Homo sapiens: one gene and its partner. The protein of the gene in region 2 binds, or shares a complex with, the protein of the main gene of each other region. Each region holds a gene or a part of one and is shown on either strand. Other genes may lie near its edges.

Region 1 (7,031 bases), on a different chromosome or scaffold from region 2:
CAAAGATCATCATTTGAAAACAGGGAGAAAGTGGAAAAAGGAAAGAATAGATCATAGATTTTAAATTGTGATTCATTAATTCGTTCAGCTAATACAGACAAGGTGCTTGCAATGTGGATGGAGATGTGCTAAGTGCCACAGGAGACATAAACATGAATTAAGTCAGATGAGACATGCACAACTATGGTATTATCAATTTTTTTTTAAATTGAAAAAAAGAAAAAGAATGAAGACAACCATTTTCCAGGTCCTATCCATCCTCATATGGTTACATACTCCCAGTCTTGATTCAGATTGACTTTGAACCCAAAGTTAGAGCATGTAAAAAGATTATATAATTGTTTTCTTACTTTTCTTTCCTACTGCCCAGCTGGCGAGCTGTATATTGATCCCCATAGTCAATTAATACCAGTTGTCGAGAAAAGACATTCACTTTGTTGCCTATAAATAAATCTTCCAAGTGCAGGTTATCATATTTGGTCCGCTTTAAAAAGGTGCGATGATTCTTTACATCATGCTAGAACCAGACACAACAATATAACAAACAAACAAAAAAAGTTATGAATAAGGAAAGTTAATCTCATCATAAGGTAGAAATAATTCTTAATTCTGTCTTATCAAAGATAGGTTATATTCTGTTTCTTTTTTGTTACAAATATAAATCATAATTTTTAATAACTTCCATATTTCCTAATCCAATCTGGTAATAACATAAAAGCTTCTTATTACAAATTTAATACTCTTAAAAACCTGAATAGAAAGATTTGTTTATTACCAAATCATTTCAGCAAAGTAGTCCTTACAAAATGCTAAAGAAAGAGTCATACACCCAAATTTCTGCTTTCTTGTGTACACAAAATCCCAATACCAAAAAGATCTACTTGTTAAAATTGTGTTGCCAGTGAAAGAACACAAAGAAACAGAAGTCTCTTAGCTTGAGCCTCTTCAATTTGACTTTTTGTAGCAATAACAGCTTTCAATAATGAGGACGTATTTATGACCATAATAATCCTTATCTATAATCACTTGTTTATTTCTTATCCAAAACATGAATAATCCCATTTCAGTCTTTTTTTTTTTTTTTTTTTTTTTTTTGAGACAAGAGTCTCATGCAGTCGCCCAGGCAGGACAGGCAGGAGTGCAGTGGCGTGATCTCAGCTCACTGCCACCTCCACCTCCTGAGTTCAAGCTATTCTCCTGCCTCAGCCTCCCGAGTAGCTGGGATTACAGGCATGTGCCACCACACCCGGCTAATTTTTTGTATCTTTAGTAGAGATGGGTTTTCACCATGTTGGCCAGGCTAGTCTCGAACTCCTGACTTCAAGTAATCTGCCTGGGTCGGCCTCCCAAAGTGCTGGGATTACAGGCATGAGGCACCGCGCCCAGCCCCCACTTCAGTCTTCTAACAACAACAACAAAAAATTCCTATTTTTGACATTAAAAATAAAGGCACAAGTTAACTTCTTATATTGGAATTATAATGAATAAGTTTAAAAAGAATTTCCATATGTATATATACACACACACATACATATAAATGTGTTTTTAAAAAGCAATTATATAAAAGGCAATGGTTCCCATGTTCACCCCCTTTGCCAACATTCAAGCAAAGAAAGGCTTATTTACCATTTCAACAGATCCATCCCCTGGGTAAAATAAAAGCTCATAACGTCGAAGAAGTGAAGCATTTGGATCATACCACTCTGCAATGAAAACGAATCTTTCACTATGATTCTGCAAAGAAAGACAGAAGAATTTTAACACTAACATATAAAGAACAAGCACTCTTCTGTAAGTCACACAAAATGAAATTACCAATATGCAAGAAACAAAATTACTTCTACCTATTATATTGAATGTTTCTGCTTTTCAACAAAGTATCAGTTATCAACACACCCTCAGCAATATTTCCTTTCAATTTCTCACTAAATACCCTTAGATATCTCAAAGATGACTTATGGATTGCTTTTTACTTTACAGCCATCTAATCATCCTGAGTAAATTAACGTTTTCTGAGAACATGAGCTCCTGATTTTACTATTGTAACAATTCAGTCCTTCTGAAAGCAAGTTTACATACAGACTATCAATAAACTAATATAAGAATAAATTTCTGAGGAGAGCTCTCAATTATATGAAGTTTTGACTTCCCTAAATTTGAGAATCTAGTAGTATCAGAATATTACCATTAAAATTATAGCAAACATTTTTTTTTCCTTAGTAATTTCATATGATAGTATCTTTTTATAGAAATAGAGAATGTGTTAGTCTAGGACCTCTGAAAATGAATGTGAAGACAAGATTGAACATACAAGAATTTCATTAAGGAAAATTCCCGTAATATAAAATGATGAGGGAGCCAAGGAAGACTAGAAAAGCCGATAAAAACAATAGAAGTTTGACACAGAGTGGTGGAGAGATGCAAGGAAGGTTAAGTGGAATCATCCCACATTGCTACACCCTCTAAGAAAGGTTCTGTAAGCCCATCAGGAAGTGCTAGAGCCAGGTGACTCCCAAGGACAGGGAGGGGCCAGCTTTAGTATCCCTGCTCCTCTCAATCAGTGGCTGGGAGCAGCCTTTGGGAAGCAAGTGCTCAGCACAAAAGCAGCAGTGGATTTCAGAGAACAGCAGCTGGGACCCTTGGTCACTTAGGTTGCCTGTAGTTGGAGGTCTGTGAAGTACACTCTTAGGGCTACCACAGAGAGCAAAAAATGAAAAAAATAAGTCAAAGATGGGTCCTTTTCCCTTGACTATTGAGCAGGACTTCCCATCATATATGTTAGTAAAAATACCCTCGCCCCAAAGATCTTCATTATAATAAGCAAATAAAAGCATAGGGAAGAAGGGAATCTAGGAGTTTTATTGCTAATTCTGGATTTGCCATCTGATGCTCTGGTTAGGGAAAATTTGGGGGTTCTTTTTAAGTTAATAATTGACTTATAAATTCTAATGGTAGAAGTTGTGTGTCTAATGATGTTTATAATATATCCATAAACTATAACGTAGATGACACTTTTATTTTTAAGACACTTTTATTTTTCCCACAATCATCCAAAGACATATTTAAACCATGCTGATTACTCAAGAGAAAATAAATGTAAAATAAGAGACATACTATGACATTTGTAAAAGCCTTTCATCATATATATTTTTCATATTGATTATAACAATACAGCTTTTTTGAGTTTAGGTTTCACTGTGCATTCTAGTATTGTACTCACCTACAAATAAAAATTTAAATATTAGTAGATTATTAAAATTTTTACTATCCATAATAAAATATTTATTTAAATACATAATTGAAATGTTGCCTTCACTAAAATAAATATAAAATAGAAGAAATGACACATCTAACTAAAGCAAATGAAAAATCCACGAAACCTGGTACTTCCATTTATCCATGTAGCCTATCCACCAAACCTGCCAACCACACTCTTTAATTCTGAATTGGGCAGCAGAATTTTGCACTATACTCTATCCAGAAAAGAGTTTTAATACAAAGAAAATAAACTGAGGAACTGTTGCTTCTGGCTATGACAAAGTAGCTCACAGCAAACCAATGCTACTTCTAAGAACAACTAGAAAAGTAGGATATCAAAGATTTGGAGAGCTTTTAAGGCAGCCAGGATCTGAGGATCCAAGATCCAGAAAGACAGGAAGCCCATTGAAGTGAAACCAACATTCATTGCGTTGTCTTTACTCGTAAGACATGTGCTGAGTCTCAAGTCAAGCAGACAAGTGACTGAGAAGCCTAAGAAGCTGGTAGAGGGAGCCCACCAAGGGACAGAGAAACAGGTACAAAAGTGAGCTGAAACCTGTGCTTGTTCAGTAGAGCTTTTGGAAACGAACTCCCAAGCTAGTGCTGTTTCCTCTGTGGGAAAAGGTTTATTACTCCAAGTACAAATTATATTCAAACTTGATTTAAACTTAACTTTCTGGTTTACCTTTACAGTAAAAACTGTGTTTACTTCCTAGAGTTAAAAGATGTACCTGGAGATATAACAGTGGTACATCTGGACTTGGGATAAAACATCACAGTGAGGTTGGCCTTTCAACTACCTGCCTGACACACATGCACATACACACACCATCCAGACCAAAGCCACCCTTAAAATTTAAAGAAAATTTACTTTTCAGCTTTGTTGAGCCAAATCTAGAAAAAAGGAGGAACTTGGTTTCCTTCCTCAAATGCTATTAAAGCTATATATCATTTTGTTTTAACTCTTCACTTTATGGATAAAGAAACTGAACTCCAGATAATATAAATGACTAGCATAAGGTCACAGAGCTGGTTAATAACTGAGCCAAAACTGGAAACTACATTTCCTATGACTCAGATATTTCCATATCACTAGCCTTCCAGGGCCAACTCAAGAGAGAGAAACTAACACTTTAGTAGCACATAGATACACCTTGAGTTGTCTGTCACAGATGCTCTGATGAGAATGCCACAACCTAATGATTACACAGACAATCATTAGCTCCTTCTTCCCTGAAGATTCCAACTTCTATCAAAAGTACTTTATGAGGAACATTTAAAGATTACACTGCATCAAAAAGAGACTTTCTTAAAGAAGCCAAATCATTTTTCCTCTTTTGAACATTTTAAATATAAGTTATACATAATAAAAGAGTTGATCCCTCACACATAATCACACTTTGTTCCAGAAATCTTAAAGTCTTAAAGGAAAATGTGTATTATTATACCAGAAGTCTTGAAGTGACTTGAACTGGACAATGTGGTATTATTATACCCAGAAGCCTTAGTATCTTAAAGTCTTAAGGTCTCTGTCTATACAGAGAGAACTTTCCTAGAGCACCAGTCTTACTCGATGGTAAGTAACGTAAACAATTTTTACACTGCAACATGCATATATGTGTATATAAATATATGTTATTGAGTGGAATGTAAAATTCATATAAGTTTTATAACAAAAAATAGGTGATTTTATGGAAATATTGACCAATATTGGAATTGCAAGTGAAATTATATTTGAAGATTAAACAAGTCTTTGGAGAAATAAATCACACCACCACCTCTCTCTGCTACTGTTTAAAGGAAGGTCCAGCTTTACAGTGGATCATATGAAATTAACAATCTTTTCCATACAGATATACTTTAAAAAATCCAAACTCTCAGTTCAAGAGTAAGTTTAAGCGTATGTTACCAAGCAAAATTGTACCTTGGCCTCATTTCAATAATACTGATCAGAAAGCTATTCCATTCCTGATGATACTATGATCATCAATCAACAAATACCAACTGGGCCTGGTACTACTAGCATGCTGAGTGCAACGAGCACACCAATCTGATAAGTCTGCTGCTGCTGGTGCTACTGCTGCTATCATTTGCTGGCAGCCTACAGCAAGAGACATGGCCCTGAAATGTGTTGCTTAAAGAGAAGATCCAGGAAACTATAAAGGGGTTTTTTGGAGGGGGGGATTATGGAGGAATATTTGTGAGAGTCCAAAAGACCTGGGCAAGACTTAATGTCTCTAACTCTCATTTTCCCCATTTGAAAAATGGAAACAGTACTTTCTTCATAAGGTAGTTTTGGGGATTAAATGACTTAGTTTACATGAAGCACTTAGGATTTCTGTTGCCTATGTCTCCCAAAGCGATGATGGTGGCTTATAGGTCCACCTGTGACTTTAGAACTGCATTGTACACACTCATCTCCCTCACTGATCTTTTTCTGACATACAAGAAGAGCAACTCTGGATTTGTGATGATGCAGCCTCAGCTGCAACTAACCCTAGGTAAATAGTTTTTTAAAGGTCTTTGCAGAAAAAAATCAGTATGAAGGAAAAAGGGATTTATGATGGACAAAAAAATGACTAAAATTATATTTATAAATGAAAATAAAAACTATTGAACATATAATACTAGGTAAATTTTTTTGTAAAGGATATATCATATTAATAAATCAGAGCCAAAGTACAATTCTTACCTTTTGGGGAGTTCAAACAGTTATAGATCTGTTTTTGTCAATAAAAATTTTAGTAACAATTTTCTTTTTAAATTTTATAACACTATCTGTTGCACATTCATCATTAGTTTTATAATGGACTTAGGGTGCCCCTTAAAGCAGATATAGCTTAGATCATAATACCCAAGACTTTTCAAATACATGTAAAGCCTTCCTAAGAAGGATGGGTACAAACATGCCAAGATTGCAGACTACAGTAAATACCTAACTTTTCAGTGCCCAGACACAGATGAACATCCACAAGTATCAAGATCATCCAGGAAAATATGAACTTACCAAATAAACCAAATAAGGCACAAGGGACCAATCCTGAAGAAACAGAGATATGTGACCTTTCAGACAGAGTATTCAAAATAGCTCTGCTATAGGTTTCAAAATCAACCCTGGCTAGGGGCCTGAAGCAAACCAGTTTAGTGCTAACAACAACAAAAAAAAAATCTGATCTAATTTTTTTCACTTTACTTTCTCTCCCACATATTCCTTATTTCTCACTCTACCGCTCCAAGCTTCAACTTCCTTGTTCCTAAATATTTTATGAAAAAGTTCAAAACACTTTTTCTTCTGGATAAGTAATATTTGTGTTTTCTTAATGTCATGCTGTGGTTTGAATTTTCAAATTTCATGAAAATTTGTGTTTCCTGAAAAAAAAAAAAAAAAAAACCTCTGCTAAGGAAACCCAAGAAATTCAAGATAACACAGAGAAGAAATTCAGAATTCCATCAAATAAATTTAACAATGAGATTGAAATAATTAAAAAGAATCAAGCAGAAATTCTGGAGCTGAAAAATGCAAAAAGCGTACTGAAGAAGGCATCAGAGTCCTTTAATGGCAGAATTGATCAAGCAGAAGAATTAGTGAGATTGAAGACAGGTTATTTGAAAATACACAGAGGAGACAAAAAAAGAATAAAAAACATGAAGCACACCTATAGGATCTAGGAAATAGGCTGGAAAGGGCAAATCTAAGTTATTGGTCTTAAAGAAGAAGTAGAGAAAGAGATAGGGGTAGAAAGTTTATTCAAAGGGCTAATAACAGAGACCTT
Region 2 (5,254 bases):
GCTTGGGGCAGATAACAAACCCACGAATTTCTCTGGCACAGAAAAGTAACTCAGGATGTGCTCAGCCCTACTCTTGAATTCTGTTTCTACTTATCAGGTTGGGTTGAACTGGATTGAGTTCCTGGAACTCTCATGGCCCTGGGCACTGGGAATCTGGAACCTTGGCTCTCCTGGCCTGCTCAGAATGTAGTGTGCCCTCCTTCAGTAGACCCCACCTCCTCTGCCCTGAGTGGAAGAGGTTGGGGCAACATTGACCCTCACTGGGGCAAAGCTTAGGCGCTGAGGAGACAGCAAACCTCAGTAAAGCTCTGTAATCTTGAGACAAGGGCTGACTCTAGTAATACTAAACAGCCTAGTTCAAGGTGAGGGATGCCAATGGAAACAGTGAACACACTAAGATTTGGACTAAGTGATAAGACGTTGGAGGAGGTGAAGGCCACCCTACTGTCAGATGCCTAGAAACTGGACCCCTTCACCACCCCCCCGTATTCACAGATCAAGCCCTGGCTATACTGACAACCAAGCTTTATTACTTTATTAGAGCTGAACAAGCATATTAAAAGTTAGGGCATGGAAGGGAGGAAGCAGGACCAGCTCACGGGCTGGAGATGAACCAAGAAGGGTTGTCCATGAGGTGAAGCTGGGTCAGAGGGAGCAGGCATGGTCGAGGCTGTGGTTACCATCTAGAAGGAGAAGGAGTAGTGGGGAGGGAAATCACTGCTCCTGGGTGCCCCAGGAAATGTAGTCTGGCTGGGTGGCCGCATGGTACTCATCAATGAGCTCCTGAACAACCTCCCTAGACCTGTCCATCTCATCAAAGTTGTCCTTGAACATGTCCTCCTTACGGAACTGCTCGAGGAAGGCATCCCGCTTCCGCAGCTTGTCAAACTGCTGGCAGGAACTTTCAAAGAGCTGAAAGAGATGAAAATCTCCAAAATGCGAGCCAGGGGGTTAGGAGTGAACTTGGGGAAGATGATGAAGGTGGCCAGTGGAACAGACTCTTCTAAGAAGAATAGAAACCTAGACTCACCGAGGAGATGCTGGTGTGGTTGGCCATCATGAGCCCGCTGACCCGGTGGGCCGAGGGCAGGTAGGGAGACTTCCTCGACAGGGCCACCTGGATGCTGGCGGGGCCCCACGGGATGAAGTTGGCCAACTTCCGTTCCCGGATCCTCTGCAGGCTCTTGTGGACCTGGGGTGGGCATAGGAGCAGTGGAGGTGGCCTCTCCTCTACCCCTGCAGGTCCAGGGCGCGGGATGAAGGGGCCTCCCCTACCTGGGTGGGGTCCACCTCTCCCTGGATGATGTTGAGGATGGCGATGTAGCAGTGGTTGGTCTGGCGGTCTCGGCCTGTGGACACCATCACGTTCTTGGGCTGCAGCAGCCGCCTCATGACATCCAGGACCGTGGTCTTCCTCACGCTGGCCACCTGATGGGACAGTGAGACAGGGACCCGGCCAGCGCTCAGGGCACAGTCCCTTTGGCTTCTCTTTGGCAGAAGCCAAAGGCAGAGGGAGGGTGGAGAGAAAGTCAGCAAGAAAGTCGCCCGCTCTGTGCCAGTCCCTGAGCGCAGTGCCTTGGGGCCTGCAAAGGGCAGCTCCTGGGGCAGTGGGGAAGAGAGAAAGGCTGGGGCAGGGCCTGCTGGGCCCAGGGCCAGCCTGGCCTGGGACACTGAAGGCTGCTCTTACTGACTGGTCTGTAGTGAGCGGGGTGTAGCCGGTCATGAGGAAGTGGAGCCGTGGGGTGGGAATGAGCGAGGCGATGAGGCCGATGAGGTCATTGTTCATGTAGCCGGGGTAGCGCAGGGTGGTGGTGCTGGCCGACATGATGGTGGACACCTGGGGACAGGCGTGCCATGTCATGGGGCTCGGCCTGGGTGGGACCTTCCTTCCCCAGATGACCCTCCAGCAAGGAGGGCTTCCAGTCCAAAGGAGTCCGGGAGTGGGGGCCCACCAGCTGGTTGATCTGGGAGAAGGACGGGTTCTGGATGTGCAGGCGGTCTGTGGCAATCCGGTTCAGGGCTGTGTTGTCCAGCACCACCTGGGGGGACAGAAGAGCATCACAGCATCTTGAGGATAAAATGGGCATAGAAATAAGATATTGGCTTAGCCCCTGCTGAACTCCAAAGCCAGGAAGTAGGTTTGTTAGTTTAAAAAAAAAAAGTACTGAGGCCGGGCGCGGTGGCTCATGTCTGTAATCCCAGCACTTTGGGAGGCCGAGACGGGCGGATCACAAGGTCAGGAGATCGAGACCATCTTGGCTAACACGGTGAAACCCCGTCTCTACTAAAAATACAAAAAATTAGCCAGGCATGTTGGCGGGCGCCTGTAGTCCCAGCTAATTCGGAGGCTGAGGCAGGAGAATGGCATGAACCCGGGAGGCGGAGTTTGCAGTTAGCCAAGATCATGCCACTGCACTCCAGCCTGGGGGACAGAGCAAGACTCCGTCTCAAAAATAAAATAAAATAATAAAATAAAATAAATAAAATAAAATAAAAGTACTGCTGGGCATGGTGGCTCAGGCCTGTAATCCCAAGGCCAAGGTGGGAGGACCACTCGAGGCCAGGAGTTGGACACCAGCCTGAGCAACACAGCAAGATGCCATCTCTGTAAAAAATATAAATAAAAAAGTATAAATATATATAATATATATATATATATATAAATATAAATAAAAAATAAAAAGAAAGAAAAGTACTGTTTCTGGGGCACCATGAGATACTCTCGGACTACGCAGGGCAGTAAACAAACACGTGAGTACCCACATGTGCCATACACTGTGCCTGGCTCTGGGAAGACCACAGAGAGGAACAGGCACCGTCTTTCCCTTCATTAGGCCTATAGTCTCGTGGAGGGAGGCACACTAAATATAAAACAGAAAATTATAGTTAACTCCCTAAAATACACATATAGGAATCTGATCTTGACTGAGTAGTCAGGAAGGGTTTTGCTAAGAAAGTTATCCTTGAGCTAAGAATACAAGCATGAGTGGGCATTAAGTAGGCAAAGGTGGGATACGTGGTGGTGTGGGGAAGGTATATTCACTTTGTTGAGAGTTTTGCTGCCTAAAAGGATTCTAAGAAACTTAGAAGTCAGGACCTTATTTCCTAATTTGGCCCACAGGTATGGCTTTGTTGGTCTTCTGTCTGTGTGTATAGGGGCTGAGGAAAGGTGGGGTGAATGAGACTCACTGGCCTGAGGAGACAGACCAAAGTCCTCTACCCTTTTTTTTTTTTTTTTAAACACAAGGTCTTGTTCCGTTGCCCAAGCTGGAGTGCAGTGGTGTGATCATGGCTCACTGCAGCCTCGACTTCCTGAGCTCAAGCAATCCCCCCACCTCAGCCTCCCATGTAGCTAGTACTACAGGCACATGCCACCATGCCCGGCTAATTTTTTTTTATGTTATTTTTTGAGGCAGAGTCTCGCTCTGTCACCCAGGCTGGAGTGCAATGGTGTGATCTTGACTCACCGCAACCTTTGCCTCCCGGGTTCAAGTGATTCTCCTGCCTCAGCCTCCAAGTAGCTGGGACTACAGGCACATGCTACCAGGACTGGCTAATTTTTTTTTTTTTTTGAGACAGAGTCTCGCTCTGTCACCCAGGCTGGAGTGCAATGCTGCAATCTCAGCTCCTTGCAACCTCCACCTCCCAGGTTCAAGCAACTCTCCTGCCTCAGCCTCCCGAGTAGCTGGGACTACAGGCATGCGCCACCACGCCTGGCTAATTTTGTTTTTTTAGTAGAGATGGGGTTTCTTCATGTTGGTCAGGCTGGTCTCGAACTCCCAACCATAGGTGATCCGCCCGTCTCAGCCTCCCAAAGTGCTGGGATTACAGGTGTGAACCACCGCACCCAGCTCTAATTTTTGTATTTTCTGTGGAGATAGGGTTTCACATGTTGCCCAGGCTAGTATTGAACTCCTGAGCTCAAGCAATCCATCTGCCTAGGCCTCCCAAAGTGCTAGAACTACAGGCATGAGCCACCACACCCAGCCCCTCAACTCTTTCTTTGCTCACCACACAATCTGCGTTCTGCGTCAGCCTCTTGAGTGTCAGGAGTGAATTGTAGGGCTGAACCACTACGTCGCTCATCTCGTCCTGGTAGGGAAACACTGAATAAGTCTGCACTAGCTTCTTGGGGTACCTGAGAGAAAAGAGGATGGTGGCATAGTGAACCGGAAGGACCCCTCCATCACTGCCCATATGTGCCATTTTGTACAAAAGGGGTGAGGGCAGAACTGAGTCTTCAGAGCCAAAAAGGATAAGCCTGAAAGCTTCAAACTCTGTAGATCCCCTCCCCTCCACAGGTAAACCCCCACCCCCCAAAATAGCTTCCAACATGGTCCTTGGGTGGGTCTGTCCCTATGACTCAAAAGGGGTAGTGGCAGACTTTCTAGCTCAAGAGAAAAAAGCAATGACATTACTCAGGGAACCAGGGTTAATGCCCTCTCCCCAAACACAGGCTTGCCTGTCATTCAGTCGCTCCAGGAGGTAGGAGCCCAGGCCAGAACCCGTACCCCCAGCGATGGAGTGACACAGCACGAAGCCCTGTGTGTATACAGGAATAAACAGACTCAGTTTCTCCTGCCACACTCTCACAACACAATTCTGATACCAGATGGGTGGGGTCTTACCACACACATCAGGTAAGCAGTCAATTCTACAGTAGATGCCAGCTGGGTATCCACTAATTCACTTCAATTCTGGACTACCTACAGACTGTCCCTGACTTAGGATGGTTTAATTTAAGATGTTTTGGCTTTATGATGGGTTTATCAGGACATAATCCCATCTTAAATCAAGAAGCATCTGAATTACAATGGTTCAATTTACAATTTTTCAACTTCATGATGGGCTTATTGGGTTATAACCTGATGCATTTCTACTTACGGTATTTTCAATTTTTTTTTTTTTTGAGACGGAGTCTTGCTCTGTCACCCAAGCTGTAGTGCAATGGCCCGATCTTGGCTCACTGCAACCTCTACCTCCTAGGTTCGAGCCATTCTCCTGCCTCAGCCTCTCAAGTAGCTGGGACTACGGGCATGTACCACCACGCCTGGCTAATTTTTTTATTTTTCGTAGATACGGGGTTTCACCATGTTGGCCAGGCTGGTCTTGAACTCCTGACCTCAAGTGATCTGCCCGCCTCGGCCTGCCAAAGTGTTGGGATTACAAGCATGAGCTACCGCACCTGTCCTCAAATTTGTTTTGGTTTTAGAGACAGGATCTCACTCAGTCCCCCAGACTGCAGTGCAGTGGT

What was found. Proteins that work in one complex are often made in the same cells at the same time.
Region 1: TUBG2 (region 2) and NME7 share a complex: the UniProt entries of both Homo sapiens proteins name them as parts of the gamma-tubulin ring complex.

The regions. Positions count from the first base shown.
Region 1 is NC_000001.11:169,322,767-169,329,797, forward strand, and holds part of NME7 (nucleoside diphosphate kinase homolog 7), read right to left. Parts: intron 1,735-7,031; coding exon 1,627-1,734; intron 518-1,626; coding exon 351-517; intron 1-350. UniProt on the Homo sapiens protein: Possesses an intrinsic kinase activity. Displays 3'-5' exonuclease activity with a preference for single-stranded DNA. Does not seem to have nucleoside diphosphate kinase activity.
Region 2 is NC_000017.11:42,662,261-42,667,514, reverse strand, and holds the end of TUBG2 (tubulin gamma-2 chain), read right to left. Parts: intron 4,543-5,254; coding exon 4,463-4,542; intron 4,139-4,462; coding exon 4,012-4,138; intron 2,040-4,011; coding exon 1,953-2,039; intron 1,838-1,952; coding exon 1,688-1,837; intron 1,429-1,687; coding exon 1,276-1,428; intron 1,193-1,275; coding exon 1,031-1,192; intron 913-1,030; coding exon 715-912; 3' UTR 509-714; downstream 1-508. UniProt on the Homo sapiens protein: Tubulin is the major constituent of microtubules, protein filaments consisting of alpha- and beta-tubulin heterodimers. Gamma-tubulin is a key component of the gamma-tubulin ring complex (gTuRC) which mediates microtubule nucleation.